Regions from separate parts of the Homo sapiens genome. Here region 2 is linked to region 1. The links come from fine-mapping of genetic effects on gene expression. A gene starts in region 1. The other region holds a variant in brackets. All regions are shown on one strand. Distances are between the middles of the regions. Region 1 holds the start of MIR4432HG (MIR4432 host gene). Region 2 has its middle 46 kb from the start of MIR4432.

Region 1 (9,568 bases):
TAATCCCAGCACTTTGGGAGGCCGAGGTGGGTGGATCACCTGAGGTCAGAATTTCAAGACCAGCCTGGTCAACATGGTGAAACCTCATCTCTACTAAATATACAAAAAATTAGCTGGGTATGGTGGCGGACACCTGTAATCCGAGGTACTCGGGAGGCTGAGGCAGGAGAATCGCTTGAACCCAGGAGGCAGAGGTTGCAGGGAGCCGAGATCGTGCCATTGCAGTCCATCCTGGGCAACAAGAGCAAAACTTTGTCTCAAAAAAAAAAAGATTTTGTCTATTAACTATCTGAAACCCTTTTTGTTCTCATTAAAATATATTATTATTAATCAAATTTCTAGTGAGAGCAATGGGATTGGATAGGCATGATTATTTTTAAAAATCTTGGTATAATACTTTGTGGCACAGTGAGTCAAAAGCCTGGCTCTGATTTTCAATACTTGGGCGATTATAGCTGAGAAAGATATATGAGACATATAAATCTGAATGGAAGAAGGGAACTAACTGGACTCTCATTTCTGATTCTTGGCCACTGTGAAGGCACAGGTTTTCATCTGTCACTATGTGCTAAAAGCAAACCAGCAAGTGAGGGTGTCACTGTCAACTGCTCCTTGTCGTGAGATTCCCACCTTTCCCTCAAGACATCTCAGATATCATATGTAACCTTGACCCTGTGTCCCACAGCAACAGCGGTCATTGAGTGTAAAGCCTTTTCCTTGAGGATTGTGGTAGACAGAATGCCCCCCAAAGGTGACTATGCTTGAATCCATGGAAACTGAACATGTCACCTTCTATGGCAAAAGGGACTTTGCAGACGTGATTAAGGTTAAAGACCTTAAATTAGAGGGAGTACCCTGGACTATCCAGGTGTCTAATCTAATCCCATGAGACTTCAAATGCAGAGAGCTTTCTCTGGCTGGAGTCAAAGAGATGTGACAAAAGAGGTCGTCGGAGAGATTGGAAGTGTGAGAAAGACCCGACCTACTGTTTCTGGGGAGCCCACCTGGAAAGCACGAGAAGGGACACAGGCAACCTTTGGGAACAAAGACTGCCAGCCACAAGGAAAAGACAGCAGTCCTCTAGCCACAAGAAACCGAATTCAGCCAGCAACCTGGACAAGCTAGAAGAGCATTCTTCCCCAGAACCTTTAGGAGGAAGTGAGGCCTTGCAGATACCCTGATTTTGGCTTTTGAGACACTAAACAGAGGATCCAACTGAGTTCAACTGGCCCAGAAACTGAGATATGTTTGGACTGTTTTAAGTTGCTACGTTTGTGGTAATTTATTTTGGTGGCAACTGAAAATGAATGTAATTGTATATTAGAAAAATTGAAGGTAGAAGCTCTAATACTTTCTCCCCACACCCCAGTGGTTCATCATGTGCAGCACTCAGGGTGTGGAAATTCCATTTTGAAGACACCGTCTTCCAGGATTCTAACCCCCACCTGGGAAAGGTCCTGGAGAGAACTTCTAGCATGTATTTCTGAGCCATTCACATTTAACCCAGAGAGAGAAGGTGTCCTGCCCAAACGCAAAGCAGCATGGCGGTAGTTCTGGACATAACCTTAACAATTGCCAGGAACTCTCTGGATGTCCATCCATCAGCCCTATCTAGTCTTTTTGTCTGCATGGCATTGTGGGGGATGTGGCGATGAGGGCCAGGATCGCAGAAGTCAGAGTACCCGTGGCTGGAGCTTCCATTTTAAATGAAGTGTTCTTGCTTATGGCTTGATGGTATCCTTTCAGATTTTGCATCTGGCTGTACTCCAGATGTTTATATAGAAACTTCACAGTAGACATGATGGTGGCGTAGGTTTGCAGGAAGGATCCTTTCCTACTTACAGAGTGACCCAATGTGGCCGATCCCTTCAATATTTACAACAGCTGGGTGAGTGGAGGCATGATCAACTCCATTTACCCGTCAAATAAATGAAATTTCAGAGCGGTTACACAATCTGCTTGAGGTAACAAGGCCAGCAAGCCACAGAGCCAACATACCCCTGGTGCCTGGCTCCACAGGAGTCTGGGAAGAGGGAGAGGAAGATGGGGACAGGATGTATCACCAGGATGCTAGGGGAAGAGAGAATATTGACGTGTGGGGCAGCCTGCATCCCCAAATCAGGAGCACTGGGTGCTGCTGTGTTACAGTGAGTGTAGGAGCATGCCGTTCTGGGCTTCACTCTGCCCAAATATGTCTTGCTCATTTTCACCGCCATATGGCTGCTCGTCCCGGTCTGTTTGAGGTTCCTTCCTGTTCCCTCTCTGCCTCTAAGTCCTTCAAAAAGCCAACTGGAAGTGCCTCTTCCAGGCTTTCCTTAGCCTTTCTTTATTCCCTTGAACTTCTATTATGTTAATTGTTCAAAAGATTAGTTCTGACACTTACCCTATGCTGCTTTGTATTACTATTGGAAAACAACAGTAGCTCTCTCAACCCATTGGGTGGATGGTACATGCCATGCTTTATACATTCCCGTGGCCCTGCTGTACCTGGCACACACAAAAGGGGATTAATAAATATGCATATGTTGAATGAAAGAATGGAGAGATGCTGTTGATTTTCTTTGTTCTTCTTTCTTTTTCTCTGATTTCATGTCAAACATAGTTTTCTCCCTTAATAACAATAATTGTTTGTCTTATGTGTACAGTGGGAAATGTGAGCCTCCACAGCCTTAGCTGAATGACTAATAGTATATCCACTTCTGCCTGAGCCAAAAATGTTAAATTGGTTTAAAGATACGGTATAAAAAAGGCCAAGCTGTATCAGGCTTGGCTCAGCCTTGGAAGAGCCACAACACCAACATACTATTTTCACGGTGTGTGTGATTTCAGGCTCTGCTCCCAAGCTTCCACCACACAGGACCAGCTGAGTTAACATACTCAGTGGGTAGCCCTGGCCATCCTAGGCTGGCCTTTCCTGGGCTCCCACTGACCAGCAAGTCAAGCCCCATGCCCCCTGCCTGGCATTCAATGCCTGCAAAAAGAACTTTGCAAATGTTCCAGCCTACTTGGTCTCCTGGATTTCCTTGCACATGGCATGTTCATTTCCACCTCGGAGCCCACTTAGGTCAGTGCCTTCATCAGAAGAATTTGTTTTCCATCCATCCCTCCCAACTTCAACTATGTTGCTTTTTTAAAAAGCCATTCTTGGAGATTTTCATCTAACTGAGTTTTTCTCTCCCTGATCACTCACAGGTCCCACTGTTTGTCCCACAGATTTTTTTCCATGATGGTCTTTTTTAATTTTTAATTTTTATTATTTAGTTGTTAAATTTTACTTTAATTTCTGGGATACATGTGCAGAACGTGCAGGTTTTTTACATAGGTATACACGTACCATGGTGGTTTGCTGTACGTACCAACCTGTCATCTAGTTTTTAAGCCCCACATGCATTAGGTATTTGTCCTAATGCTCTCCCTCCCTTTGCCCCTGCCCCCTGCCCCCCTGTCTTTATGAATTAAGTGAAAAAGTGTGTATTAAGCACTTACATGTGCTCATTCCTCTGTCCGGTGCTTGAGGGGGCTCCAGAGGAACAGGAGCTGCCAGTGATTGATACACAAGGTGCTGGGTATGAGCCCTTTCCTTCCTGGCTTTATGTGATCAGCAAACATTCCTGTGACCATGAAATTCTACTAGGAAGAGCAATCCTACAGCAGCTTTTGTGCACATGCACAAGGAGACATGCAGAAGGTGCTTCTTGCAGCCTTATTTGTAAAACTGTAGAACAACTTGAATGCCCACTGAGAGGAGAAGGGATAAATAAGTTGCAGTGAATTCATATAGTAAAATCCTATAAATAGTCCTACATATAAGTTGTGGTAAAGTCATATAGTGAGTTCCTATACAGCAGTTAAGATGAATTAACTGAAGTTACATGTAATAACTCACCTAAATCTCAGCAAATTTGATGTTGAAAAAGAGTGATCAGCTGTAGAAGTGAAAGTACCATATAATACCATTTATATGAAATTTTAAGACCCACTAAACAATACTGTATATGGATATACACATATTATGTTTCAGTATTAAAATATGCATGGGAATGATATATACCAAGGTTGGCAAATTATGCCCATGGCCAAGTCCAGCCCACCACCTGCTTTTGCGTGGCTTGTGAGCTAAGAATGGGTTTTACAATTTTAAATAGTTGAAAAAAAATCAAAAGAAGGACACTCTTTGGTGACACCTGAAAATTATATGAAATTCAAATTCCAGTGTGCATAAATAAAATTTGCTGGAACACCACCACACTTGTTCTTTCACTTATCAACTATGGCTGCCTTTGTACTCCAAGGACAGGGTTGAATACTTGCCACAGACCGTGTGGCCTGCAAAGGTGCAACTACTTACCATCTGGCCCTTTTCAGAAAGTTTTCCAAGTCTTGATCTATATCAGACTTGGGGGAATGGTTGCCTCTGGTAAGGAAAGGAGAGGAATGGAACTGGGGCAGGAGTGCATCAGTTACAACATTTTATCTCTTAAGCTGCTGGTGGGTTATATATTAATACTTACATTTTGGATGTCTAAAGTATTTTGTAGTTTCAAAAAAAAGTAGAAGACAAACTTCTCACCTCCTAGAAAACCCATAGTAGGTATTATTATGGCTCCCAGTTCACAGTCAGGTATTATTATAACCTACAGTAGGTATTATTATAACCTAGCCCAACCCAGGTTGCCAAAGTTCTATCTCTCTCTCTCTCTCTCTCTCTCTCACTTTCCACGAGGCAGGCAGCCCCAGGCTCACAGGCCAGCAGCTGAGATGAGAAGACATGGGGTTTTTCAATGACTTCAGCAGACTGTACCGGGAGGATTTGGCTAACTGGGCTTGGATCACTGGCCCCTTCCTGCCGGCAGCCCTTCCTCAGATGAGAAAATTCACAGATGAGAAAGCGAAACTTAGAGGGTGCATGGATAGTGAATGCTGGAAGAGGATTAACCTCAGGACCTTCCATCCCAGCACCTCTGGAGCACTGGCCTGCGTTGCCAGTGCTCTTCAGGCCAGCTGGGGGGAAGGGACTGAATGCCAATCTGCTCTGGGATGAACATCTGCCTCCAGGAGACAGTTGTTTAATGAAATTTCCCACCCATGTGATTAGCATCCTCTGAGAGTGAGATGAGTAAAACAGGCTACCACCATCAACATCATCTCTGACTGCACTGCCTAGACAGTAATAACACCCAAGATTTTTAGAGCTTTCTGTTTCTCAAAGTCATGCCCACTGATTCACTCAGGAACCCGGCAGGAAGCAAGGCAGTCCTTGATTGCCCATGTCGTTGAGATGGTAAAAGGGGTATTCTGAGCAACTGTTGAGTTCTTTTACATCCCTGGGATGGCATGGTCACAAAGGCCAGACACCGGGCCTGACTTCAAGGTCACTGTGGCTGCACTACTGAGTGACTGTGGACAAGTCTCACATTCTCTTGAAGACTCAGGAGCCTCCTCTGTAAAGTGGAGATGATAATTATTTCCCACCGCATGGGTGTGTTGTGGGGATTAAATGAGATCATACAAGTGGAATGCTGAGCACCAGTCCAGGAAGGCGAGGGGCACGCCCTACATGTCACCTACTGGATCATTGCTGTTTTCAGGGTTCCTATTACCCAAAGATCCACCTAGAATTCTTCCCCTGAGTGCTGTTCATCTTCGTCAAGGCTCAGCAATGTTTTGGATGATTCTCCTTTGACATAGCTCTGGTGCTTGTTAATACTAAATGTTTTCCAGCTTACCTATAAGGAAACTGAGTCTTAGGAAGCAATTGCAGGGCCTCTACTTTGTGCATGAGAATGAGTGACGGCTGGGGAAACCTGGGATTTGGCCTGATGTTCAAGCACTGGCACCTGCCTGCCTTTTCTCTGTAAACATCTGACCCTAGAATGCTCCACCAGGGCGAGACCATCATCACCAAGCAGCAGCTGCATGGTATTTATCAAAGGAGGCGTGGTTTCCTTTGCTGTGGCTCTCCGCATTCGTGGCAGTTATTCATTTTTGAAGCAGAGGTCACTTTTCTTTCACTGGTGAGGTACTTTGACAAAGACGAAGAAGGGAGACAATGGTAATGATGGTGGAGTCAGGGGGAAGTGGGGATGGGATTGGCATTGGGTTTGAAGGCTGACAGTCAGAGGAAGGGGAGGGACTGAGGATAAAATACTTGCTGTGCTCATGTTGTCCAAGAGTTTGCATTCTCTGGTAGTCAGTGATCAAATGAAGCAGGGAGTTTCGTGTTCAAAAGCAGCACCTACAGGTTCTTTATAGAGGCTTGCCAGAAGATGAATGCCTTGGCTAGAATTTGTAGGCAGGCTTATTTAAGTTACAAGTGACAGACACTCAAACTAATAATAAACAAAAAGGGAATAATTGGCTCATGTAACTGGGAAGTGCAGAGGAATATGGGATACAGGAACAGCTGGATCCAGGGGTTGGCACCAGGTTGTCAGGGTTTTTTTTTTTTTTGAGACGGAGTCTCGCTCTGTTTCCCAGTTCAGTGGTGCAATCTTGGCTCACTGCAACCTCTGCCTCCTGGGTTCATGGGATTTTCCTGCCTCAGCCTCCCAAGTAGCTGGATTACAGGCGTGTGCCACTATGCCCGGCTAATTTTTGTATTTTTAGCAGAGACGGGGTTTCACCATGTTGGCCCGGCTGGTCTTGAACTCCTGACCTCAGGTGATCCACCCACCTTGGCTTCCCAAAGTGCTGGGATTACAGGTGTGAGCCACTGTGCCCGTCCCAGGTTGCCAGGGTTCTGTCTCCCTCTCCCTCTCTCACCTTCCGTGAGGCAGGAAGCCCCAGCTCACAGGCCAGCAGCTGAGATAAGAAGTCATGTCCTTTTTCAATGACATCAGCAGACTATACCAGGGAGGGTCTGGCTAACTGGGCCTGGGTCATTAGCAGCCCTGCCTCAGGAGAGGAGCTATCTACTATGCAACACAGGGCAGTACAAGCCTCGGTTCCTCCCTGTCCACCTAGTCATGAAAATGAGGATGGTTTTGGTGGTTAGCATGTTCCCTCTTAACTTGCCTCAGCATCATCTGCAAAAACTAGAAAATATAAGTGTGCATATTTTTAGCTGTTTTTAAATTTGTAAAACTGGAAACTGTTAAGATATTTACTTAGAACAAGAAAACCTACTGTGCCCTGAGTGAAGTTCACTTAAGCTGCCTCACAGTTACTCCTTGAGTCCTCACTGTCCCGCAGTCTCCTTTCCGCTGAGTTGGGGTGAGTTCTAACTTCAATTTTGCCTGTGAATGTAAATCAAATCTGACCTCCCGTCTCCAGTACATCAAGGGTGTACTCACAGGGACCTAGAAAATATTATATATGGTCCCCTAGAGCTCAAACCCAAGTTGTCTGGGGACAGAGAAGCAACTTTGGGCCATTCCAGGGAAAAGCTCTGGCCACCCTGTAGTAAATCTTCTCCCTTCCTTTCCTTTCAATGGAGGAGGAAGCTTGTCCTTTGCATGAGCATGAAAAATACTAAATTTGGACTTTTTGGAGGTTTTCATTTATGAAGTAGAGTCTATATATTTGGCTCAAGTCTTGCCGGCTGCCCTATTTTCATAGTCCCAGGATCAATATGAGGTTAGTCCATTTGTCTTCTGGAAAAATGTTGTGGCTGGGCTATGTGGCTCACACCTGTAATCCCAGCACTTTGGGAGGCCAAGGTGGGTGGATCACTTGAGATTAGGAGTTCCAGACTGGCCTGGGCAATGTGGGGACACTCTGACTCTAAAAGAAATAGAAAAATTAGGCATAATGGCACATACATTGTGGTCCTAGCTGCTTGGGAGGCTGAGCTGGCAGGATTGCTTGAGGCTGGGAGGTTGAGGCTGTAGGGAGCTGTGATTGTGCCACTGTACTCCAGTCTGTGTGACAGAGTGAGGCCCTGTCTCCAAAAAAAAAAAAAAAAGAAAAAAGAAAAAAGAAAAATGTCGTGCAGTCTTGCAGAATCTTCATGTGATCTTGCTTTGAGGCTATTAGAAAGTTCTTTCATACCCTTCCTCTGTGCTTGGCTGGAAGCCTTTTCCCCTAATTTTGGCACCTCCACCTTGAGTCACCTTGCAGTAGGTGGGAAGTGTTTTCCTTTTACAGGTTGGCCACACAACTGCCTCATCTCCTGTCCTGCACGAGGGCCACCACAGCTCTCCCCTTTCCTTTCCTTTCGTTTCGTTTCCTTTCCTTTCCTTTCCTTTCCTTTCCTTTCCTTTCCTTTCCTTTCCTTTCCTTTCCTTTCCTTTCCTTTCCTTTCCTTTCCTTTCCTTTCCTTTCCTTTCCTTTCCTTTCCTTTCCTTTCCTTTCCTTTCCTTTCCTTTCCTTTCCTTTCCTTTCCTCTCTTCTCTCTTCTCTCCTCTCCTCTCTTCTCCTTTCCTCTTCTTTTCTTTTCTTTTTGAGATGGAGTCTCATTCTGTGGCCCAGGCTGGAGTGTAGTGGCACGATCTCAGCTCATTGCAACTTCTGACTCCCAGGTTCAAGTGATTCTCCTGCCTCAGCCTCCCTAGTAGCTGGATTACAGGCATGCGCCACCATGCCCGGCAAATTTTGGTATTTGTAGTAGAGACGGGGTTTCACCATGTTGGTCAGGCTGGTCTCGAACTCATGACCTCAAGTGATCCATCTGCCTCAGCTTCTCAAAGTGCTGGGATTACAGGCGTGAGTCACCGCGCCTGGCCCAGATTGTTCTATCTCCCTCTCCCCTATCACTTTCCATGAGGCAGGCAGCCCCAGGCTCATAGGCCAGCAGCTGAGATGAGAGGACATGGCCTTCTTCAATGACATCAGCAGACTGTACTAGGGAGGGTCTGACTAACTGGGTCTGGGTCACTGGCCCCTCCTTGCCAGCAGCCCTTCCTCAGGAGAAGAGCTGTCTACTGTGCAGCACAGGGCAATACCAGCCTCAGGTCCTCTCTGTCCAAGGATTTAGTTGGCTTCAGGGAAGGCCCTTGTAATGACCTGAAGATGGAAATGAAGAGGTCAACTTCACCAGCACCAGCCACCTGTCCAGAATGTCTCAGCTTGTGTTTCTTCCTTTAAGATTCAGAAGGGTAAAAGGGAGCCACCAAACCTCATTTGGAGGGTCTGTCATTCTTTGCTGTTACTAGCCACTTCTCTGGAACACTTGTGTCCCTGTATTAGTTAGATGCTTGCAGTTTAAGGGGACTATGGCGTAATCCCATTGCTTTAGGTGATGGAGGATTATTGGAAGGACACCCTGGGAGGTGGGGAAGAACAGTAAATCTTCTCAGCAGTCACAGCTGGGCTTCACCGAGAACTGGAGTATCGTCCATGGCCATATAGGATTTGACAGGAGTTTGTGTAATCTAGTAAATAAAACCCCATGTTCCATAATCAAACTGCTGGGTTCACATTGCAACTCTGCCCTTTACCACTGTGTCACCTCTCTAGCCTCAGTTTCCTACCATCTATACAGTGGTGACAATAATAGCACTGACCATGTGGGGTTCCTTGTCAAGTTTCGGTGAGATCCTGTGCACAAGGACCTAACAGTGCCAGGCAAAAAGTTATGCTCAATGAGTATTGTTGTCAACTGTGGCTCCATGGACACTGTTATTATGAA
Region 2 (9,568 bases), 51 kb after region 1:
TTAAAATCATGTAGTATAAGTCCTCCAACTTTGTTATTCTTTTTCAAATTGTTTTTGATATTTTTTGCCCATATGAGTGTTAGAATCAGCTTGTGAATTTTTCAAAAAGGCACATGAAATGTTGATCTTAATGATATTGAATATGTAGATTCATTTTGAGAGAATGTGCATTTGACAATATTTTGTCTTCCACTTCATGAGCATGACATCTCTACATTTATTTACCTTTAATTTTTTTCTGCAATATTTTTATGCCCTGTACAGTTTTCAGTATTTTTATTTCTAAATGTTGAATGTTTTTTGATGATATTGTAAATGGGATACAAAAATTATTGTCCATTTTTTTATTGGTACTGCATAAAAATTAAATTACTTTTAAAATTTTGGTCTTGCTAAATTGATTCCGTAAGGTTTTCTACATATGTGATCATATTATCTGCAAATAACAATGGTTTAAATTATTTTCTGGTATTCATGTGTTATATTTCTTTCTCTCTTTTTTTTTTTTGGGCTTATTTCACTGGCTATGACTTCTAGTATAATACTGAATAAAAGGGGTAAGAATGGATATAATTTCCTTACACAATGTTTTTGTTAGGTTTTGGTATCAGAGTTATATGAATGTCATGTAACAACTGGTGACATGTTCCCTCTTCTAACTTTTGAAAGTGCTTATCTAAGATTGGTATAAATTCTTCCTTAAATATTTACATAATTTATTGGTGAAGCTGTCTGAGCCTGGATAGTTTTTCTTGGTAGGTAGTTTATTATGAGTTTAATTTCTTAACAGACATAGGACCATTTAGATTTATTTCTTCTTACTTCAGTTCCGGTACATTTTATTTTTCAACAAATGTTTCCATCTTGTATAAATTGTTGATATTTTGGCATCCACTTGTTTATAAAATCTTCTTATTATTCTTTTAATATCTTTAAAATTTGCAGTGATGTCTCTTCTTTTACTCCTGCTTTTGGTGATTTGTGTTTTTTCCTCTTGCTCGATTTTGCCAAAAATTGATCAGTTCTATTAATTTTTTCAAGTATCCAACTTTTAACTTTTTTGTCTATTTTCTGATGTATTTATTTCTGCTATTAAATTTTATTATTTGTTTTCTTCTACTTAATGTTGCCTTGAATTTGTTATTTTTTTCTTGCTTCATTTTTTTTTTTGAATTGAGTTGTTGCTCTGTTACTCAGATTAGAGTGCAGGGGCATGAGCACAGCTCACTGCAGCCTCTACCTCCTGAGCTCAAGTGATCCTCCTGCCTTAACCTCCCAAGTAGCTAGGACTAAAAGTGTGTGCCATCACACCCAGATAATTTTTTATTTTTCAGTTGAGATGGGGTCTTACTATGCTGGCTAGGCTGGTCTCGAACTCCTGGCCTCAAAAAATTCTCCCTCTTCAGCCTCCCAGAGTGCTGGAATTACAGGCATGAGCCATCGTGCCTGACCTTTTTTTGCTTCTTAAGGTGAAAATTTAGGTCTTTGATTCAGTCCTTTTTTCTAATATAGACATTTAAAGCCCTAATTTTCCTCTAAGTCCAGATTTATCTGCATCCTACAAATTTTCTTATGTTGTATGTTTTTTATTCTTCAGTTGGAAATATTTTCTAATTTCCCTTTTTTTTTTTTCTTCTTTGACTGATGGGTTATATAGAAGTGGTTACTTAAATTTTGAAATATTACAAGATTTTCTAGATATCTAATTATAATTGATATCTAATTTCTATTGCAATCAGAGAATATTATTTTGATCCTTTGATATGATTTTGAACCTTTGTTTTTTTTAGATTTGTTTTGTGGCTCAGCATGTAATCTGTCTTGGTGAATATTTTAGGTGCAATTGAAAATAATGAGTATTTGCAGATTTTGGCTATAGTTTTTTATAAATGTCAAATTGGTTAAAAGTGGTATTTCAATCCTTTTATATCCTTACTGATTTTTTTGGGGTTTATTTGTTATATCATTTGCTGAGAGAGAGAGGTGTTATAGTCTCCAAGTATGAATGTGAATTTCTCTATTTTTCTCTTTAGTTCTGTCAATTTCTTCTTTTCGAATTTGGAAACTTTGTTATGAATATATATATATACATTTATAATGATTAGGTCTTCTACATAAATTGATCTTTAAAAAATGACAAAATACTCACCTTATCTCTGGTAATATTTGTTGTCTTAAAATCCACTTTGTCTGATTTTAATATAGCCCCCAGTTTTCTCATGTTTATTGTTTGCATGGAACATCTTTTTCTAATATTTTCCTTTCAATCAATCTTTCTCCTCCTCCTTCTCTTCTTCCTCCTCCTTCTCCTCCTTCTCCTCCTTCTGCTTCTTCTGCTTCTTCTTCGTCTTCTTCTTCATCTTTTTTTGTTGAGACAGAGTTTCACTCTGTTGCCCAGGCAGGAGTGTAGTGGTGCGATCTCAGCTTACCGCAACTTCTGCCTGCTGAGTTCAAGTGATTCTCCTGTCTCACCTTCCCAAGTAGCTGAGACTACAGGTGCACGCCACCATGCCCAGCTAATTTTTTTGTATTTTTAGTAGAGATGGGGTTTCATCATGTTGGCCAGGCTGGTCTCAAACTCCTCACCTCAAGTGATCCACCTGCCTCAGCCTCCCAAAGTTCTGGGATTACAGGCATGAGTCACCATGCCCAGCCCAATCTATCTTCTTTTATCTCTGTTTTTATATTAATAATTAACATGTTACTTTTAAATTGCATATAGGTAAGTCTTGCTTTTCTATTCAATCTGACAATTTCTGCCTTAAACAGTTGATGTATTTAATCTATTTACATTTACTACAATAACATTTATGATTGGGTTTAAGTTTATCATTCCGGTATTTGTCATATCTATTCATTGTACGTTGCTTCATTTTTTTCCTGTATTCTTTTAGGGTAAATCAAGTATTTTTTTATTACTCTATTTTGTCTTCTTTATTGACTTTGTAGCTATACTTTTTGTATTATTTTTATAGTGTTTGCTCTTTAGAAATTAGACTGTGTATTTTAAGTTATCACAGTTTACTTTCAAATACATTCCTAATGAATGGCAATGCAAGAAACAGCAATATAATTACATTCACCTGCTTCTTGCCCTTTATGCTATTGTTTTCATATATTTTACTTCTATTTATGCTATAAACTCCATAATATATTATCATTTTTGCTTTTAACAGTGAGTCTTTTTTTTCTACAGAAGTTGGAAATATACATATTGTGTGTGTGTCTGTGTGTGTGTGTGTGTGTGTGTGTGTGTGATGTCTAGGTATGGTTTTCCTTGTATTTATCTATTTGGGTTCACTGAGCTTCCTGGATCCATGGGTTGATTTTGGAAAGTACTTGGCTGCTATCTCAAAAAAAAGAAGAAAAAATACATTTTCCTTGTTAACATTCCACTTTTTTTCTTAGACTTATTTTGCAACTGGCTTCAAACAATTTGAAGAAAGGGTCATGGCTTTCCCTTCAGCAGAGTTTGGGATCTGAACACTGGTGAGATTCTAGAAAATTCTTTATGCTTTACAACATAGCTGCCAGCTTTTATTCTTCTTTTTCCCACTGGAGTGTTCTCTTTGCCCTCCAGCGTTGCCCCCAAATGTCTGCCTCTTGAGAGTTCTCCACCCAGTGGTCCTGCTTGCGTCTTTGGAGGACGGTAGCAGTGCGCTCAGTGGAGGCCACGGGTGCCTCAGAGGGATTTCTCTTGGACCTCCTGCCCTACCCCAGCTTCGGCGTTGCACTTGGAGAAGGCCCTGGATATCTCAGGGTAATCTACCATCCCTAGCCCTACAGCATACTGGCCCTGTGCACTAGATAAGAACAATAGCAGAGGGTTGTGGACTGGTACAGACACACACTCCCCAGGGTCTTAATCTGCCATGCCAACCCACTCACTGCTGCAATTCTATTAAAAGTTTGGTGGGGCTGGGTGCGGTGGCTCATGTCTATAATCTCAGCACTTTGGGAGGCCGAGGCAGGCAGATCACCTGAGGCCAGGAGTTTGAGAACAGCCTGGACAACATGGTGAAACCCTGTCTCTGCTAAAAATACAAAAATTAGCTGGGCATGGTGGCAGGCACCTGTAATCCCAGCTACTCGGGAGGCTGAGAAAGATAATCGCTTGAACCCGGAGGCAGAGGTTGCAGTGAGCCGAGATTGTGCCACTACACTCCGGTCTGGGCGACAGAGCAGGACTCTGTCTCAAAAAATAAAAAAATAAATAAATAAAATAAATAAATTTAAAAAAACAAAATTAATTAAAAAAAAAGTTTGGTGGTTTCTCCTTACCCCTATCCATGGCAGATTCATCTTTCTCTGCTCCTTCCCAGTGATGAAAATGTCTCTCTTCTTGCTAGGAAGGAATCTTCACTTTCTGAAATTTAGTTCATTTCACTTCTTTGCATCTGAAGCTCTCTGATAGGTTTTAAACAATTGTGATATTGTAGCTTACCTGGTTCATTCTCATTGTTAGGATGGGAGCAAGTCTTCAGCAATTTTTGGCAACCTAAATGGAAGTGGAGCTCGTTCTTTTTGTTTTTATTTATTTACTTTCTATTTCCAGTAACTAGATGCCGATCTATGCAGCTGGGATAGGAATAGATTTGAGTGATCCTAACTCAAAATCCCAATTCCTTTCCTATGTCAAAAGCTTTCTATTGGATAAAGCTCATAATCTGTGACTCCTTCTCTCACTTGCAGTTGCCCCCCAAGAGGCTCTTCAGAACCAATTAAATGGATTTCTGTCGGGCCCACCCGTCAGTGTTACAGAGATGTCTAAATCTCAATATTCAAGGCATGGCAAACTCCTCACCCGTCAGCTACCCAATGCATCTATTGTTACAGTAAGAATACACTGGAGAGGGGCAATCCCTCAAAAGCATTTTCAGCTTGGTGACATCAAGGCTTACAGAAAAGGGAGTGATTTCAGGGTGAGAGTAGGGTAGGAACACCTACCTACTAATGTTTCCTTGGTTTCTTCTCGGAGCTACCCTTTTCCACAGTTAATCCTGTGGTAACTCCTTGAGCTAGGTCTCATTTAACGCACAAGCATGCTGAGACTCCAAGTCGGGGTATAACTTGCTGGAGGTAAGTGGCAGAGCTGGGATTTGAACCCACATCTGACTCACTCTAAAACCTAGGCTTTTAAAATTTTTTCTTGACCAACATGGAGGAAGGCATGGC[A/T]GAAGACAGAATAGGCAGACCACTGCTCCCCGGTCAGGCCTGGGACTGACCTGGCAGGTGTCGGCCCTGGGGTCAGAACCACGTTGGAGGCTGTAGCTTCTGAGAACAGTGCTCTTCTGTCAGGACCCCACCTCACAATGGATTCAGGTACTCTCGTAACCTTGAGCAGTGCATTTAGTCTTTTTCTGAATATCAGCAGTTTTCTGAAAACTGGAGTTGTCCCAAATCCTTTGAAAACATTCGTGTGGGAAATTGGGAGCCACTCCTCCAAAGGTCACTGTCCCAATAACTGGATTTATAGAAAGGAAAGGACAGAAAGGAGCAGCCCCCACGTTCACCCCAGCCCCTGCCCATCCCAGTCTGCACAAACCTTCTTGCCACACCAGAGGCCACCTCACGCTTGGCCTCTTCTCCCTGGCACGGTGGCTTACACAGGAAAAGCCAAAGTGTAATTAGTTAATAGCAGAGCTCCTCTGTTAATGGAAAGGGCATTTCAAACTTACTTATGCAAACTGATACTGTGGGATTTGTCAGAAACCATCAATAGGATGCAACAGAGAGGACTCACAGGTCATTTGTCAAATGGGGACAAACCTTGTCTCATTTAAGCTTTGAGACCCAGAGTGGCTCTCTGAATTGCTGGCCTGCTGGGATGTAAGAGCACTGGGGGAGGAAGCTGGGACCCCTTTTTGGAGCATCTTTTCCCTCATAACAGTTCTGGTCAGGACTGCTACATACCCAACAGGCATGATCTCAGCTGTTCCTCACCACAACCCAATGAGGTAGTTACTAGTACTGTCCCTATTTTATAGCTGAGGAAACTGAGACTCAGACAGGTAAGTACCTAGACTAAGGTTAAGTATCTAGTCAATGGTGAGCCTGGAACATGAGCCCAAGATTGCTTGAATTCCAGGTCTAGGTGGTTAAACACTTTCCTGGTACCTTTCCATTCAGCAGTTGGCCTACTCTAAAACCTAGGTTACTAATAGAAGATGACAGGGGATCCTCTGAGACTGGTTATTTATCACCACACCTCTTTTCTCCTCTTCTTGGGCTCATGGCCACACTATATTTCCCAGACTCCCTTGCAGTTGGGTGTAGCCATGTGACTGAGAGCTGGCCAATGTCATGTGAGTAGAAGTGTTTCTCCTCTACCCCCTTAGGTGATCTTCATGCTCATTCCATGGCTAGAATGGAAGTGATTTCCAGGACCACCTTGAGAGCCATGTGTTGAAGGTAGTTGATCCATAAATCAGAAAGAGCCTGGGTCCCTGATTCACCACTTGGAGGAGAATGTTCCTACCAAGCATACCTGTATCACACTCTTTTATTGGGTTAACCCACTTATATATGAAGGTTTACCAGTTGTAGAAACTGATGTTACCTTAAGCTATGCAAGTGTTACCCATCAGGAAGGGGTTGGATGGCCACTGAGGAGCTGAGGGCATGACCCTGAATACTCCCTCTGATTAACTTGCCTAGGGAGGAAGGGGTGAGGAAGCTCGGTCTTTCTTGCTGCACAGATTCAGGTTTGGGTGCAAGGCTTAATGGATTAATGAACCTTGAACAATTTAATTTTTCTAAACATCGCTATTTTTCTGAAAGTTAGAATGATATTTGCATCATTCTGTATGAGTTTAATTTAGTCAACAGATTTTGTTGAGCACTTACTCTGTGTTGATAATTGATCTAGGTGCTGGGGAGAGGAGCAGTGAGCAAACACAAAATCCCTGCCTGTTTAGAACTGATCTTCTAGTGGTGGTGGTTGGGGCTGGGAGCAGCTGGACAGTGAATTACTAAGTAAGTATGCCATGTGGCGATTAGTGATGTGGGGAACTAATAAAGCAGAGTTGGGGGAGTGAGAATACCAAGCATGATGGGTGGAGGGCAGGTGGTCAGGGAAGGTGTGTCTACTTGCAGACATTTGAGCAGATACCTGAAGATAAAGAAGTGGGCCATGGAGATCTTTGGGGAAAGGGTGCTGCAGGCAGAGGGACTGGTCAGTGCAAAGGCCCAGGCCAGAGAGCATGTGTCATGTTGGAGGAGCAGCGAGGTGGCCAGTGTGGCTGGAATGGTGAGGGCCAGGGTAAGTGTGGTCATGTTGGAAAAAGCATCCTTCACACCACCTGCATATATGTAGATGGCCCACAAATGTTGAGTCCTTTCTTCCTAGATGACAGCTTTGTAGTCTCCCAGGGAAATCCTCATTGGTAAAAACAAACAAATAGATGAAAATTGAAGCAAATCAAACACAAATTTTCTTTATTGACTGGCTGATGCCTGAAATTTCACTAGGAGACATTGTCCTTTTAGTCCAAGGCTCTAGTTCCTGTATCATACAAATACTTCTGGCAAAGGATAACATTCCAAGCCATTTTGGTCATTAAACCTTAAAGAGGTTGATTTCAAATTTGGTTGAGGTTAGTGGAGGAGAAGGGTCTGAGAGATCTGGTTGCCTGGAGAGGATTGAAGTAAAGATCAAGAGAGGGCCAGGGAAGGAGGGCAAAGGGGTGTGTGTGGAAGCTTAAGCCTGTGTGTTTTGAAGCTCCTCTATGCTATAGCTTTATGTGGGTGTCAAAGGAATTTACATCTGCAGACATCACTGATTCTCAGAAAGGATTGCTCCTAACTCACAAGTTTGCTATATATTGAGTGAATGAATGAATTTTCTATATCCCCAGGAAGGGATGATCCTTGCCTCCCACCCTGTCACTGAAGACCAGGAGAAGAGTGATCCCCCGAAATGCCCTCAGCTCCTGAAATGCCCACTGTCAACATTCTTGGTTACAGACAACGGCAACACCTGTTTCAAGAATAAAATGGATCTATTGAATATTTGGGATCATTAGGAGTTGAGGGGCAGGGAAAGCAAATTCCAGGTTAAGTTTCCAGAAAAAGTGCCCCAACCGCACTGTAGAACTGGCCTGAAGATGAAACCACCATTGCAGCTACTGAGAACTCAATGATAAGAACTTGTCATTTCTACCCTGTGCACTGCTGCTTCCCAAGAACTGATGCTACCGTGTCAGCGAAGGGATTCCCTTGCTGAGCCCAGTTCCTTACACTGCTCACTTCATTTCTAAAGCAAAATCTTATGCAGGTGTGTACAAAGACAGAACTATGTCACAGGCCTGCATTCTAACTGCAAGAGAGGCTGGCAGTTTGAGTTGTGACTACAATGGGGAGGCAAGAATGCTATCATGAGATTTTCCCCCATTATAGAAAGGATTGGCAAAGATAGAGCCAAAGTTCCCTGTAGGAGATGTGTACAGAAGGTCTGATGAAAATTCGAAGTCTTATTCAGAACAAAAGGCCTAGATAACCTTCCAGGGACCCTGGAAAGAATGATGCCTAGGAAGGTGGCTTCTGTCATGAAGTGATCACCAACCATGGCAATGTCAACTGGGGAATGGCAAGGGGGAGTGCTGGGCATAGGGTCCAGCTCCCAGGAAACTAGAAGGAGCCCAGGAAGCTAGAAGGCAAGCTTATGTCAGCTTGGTCTTTTTAACAGGGCTCCACCCTGCCAAGAGAACAAGGCCTACATGGGAAATTATGAAGAACACACACACGCAAAAAAAAATCTGAGTTTGCTTTGTGTAGGGATTTAATTACTGACTTATCCTGATGCTTATGTATACTTGCAGCTTAGAAAAGTGAAGACATCTTTCTGGGACAGTTCTGGGAAACAGAAGCCCATGCGCACTAAAAGGAACCAAGGAATGTTTTCCATGTATCCTGAGCTGGACACCAAACAAATGTGTTCCTCTTTCTTTGCTCACTTAGAAGTCTTCTTCCTGTCCTGGGTTAATTGACTTCAACTTTGAAGGAGATGATGTTTATTTTCATCTTCGAATCTGACCTGATACCATTTAGAAATTATGAATAAATTTTAATACATTGGAACCCTATGTTAAACCACAATGCATGAGTGGATGAGTCACAATTCCAAGACAGCTCAATGCCCCACACAACTAAGACACAGATGACTTTGGTGCTCCCCAAATCACTTTCCCATGAAGGGCAAGGTTCTCTCGGCAGGGTGGGGCATGGTCAGAAAGGAGAACTTCAGCTTCTGCTTCAAAACAAGCTTCCAGGCTCAGATGGGCCCTGCTGTCTCAAACACTGCTCTTCACCCTGCCACGCTTTGTCCTTGCTGGGCTCGCCATCCTTCAAGGGCCCCCCTCCAGGAAGCTGCCCTCTCGTGGCAGGCATCTTGCTGGTAGCTCCCAATTATTTTGTGAGATGGGATGCAGAACAGAGTTGCTTTGGAAGCCCTGGAGGGTATTGAGGGTCTGACTTTTGGGCCGCAGGACCTCTGCAAAGCCTGATTCCTTGAAGACATCACTTTGACTTACTTGGTCCCAGAGCCTGTCTTGTTTTTAATTTCCCTGCT

What was found. PIP is the estimated chance that this variant, and not a neighbour inherited with it, causes the effect. A credible set is the group of variants that fine-mapping cannot tell apart.
Region 2: its variant is the best candidate, but not a certain one, in a credible set for the expression of MIR4432HG in whole blood (TOPMed, PIP 0.81).

What each region holds. Positions count from the first base shown.
Region 1 is chr2:60,387,790-60,397,357 of GRCh38, reverse strand. MIR4432HG (MIR4432 host gene) reads left to right here and starts at 5,983. Exons shown (of 2, transcript NR_132992.1): 1 at 5,983-6,052. LOC102724142 (a long non-coding RNA gene) reads left to right here. Exons shown (of 2, transcript XR_007086327.1): 2 at 542-2,535.
Region 2 is chr2:60,337,009-60,346,576 of GRCh38, reverse strand. No RefSeq gene overlaps it. Among named protein-coding and RNA genes, the nearest start is that of MIR4432, 46 kb to the left of the region's middle. RefSeq lists an enhancer at 9,393-9,568. The variant A/T (reference allele first, on the strand shown) is at 5,176.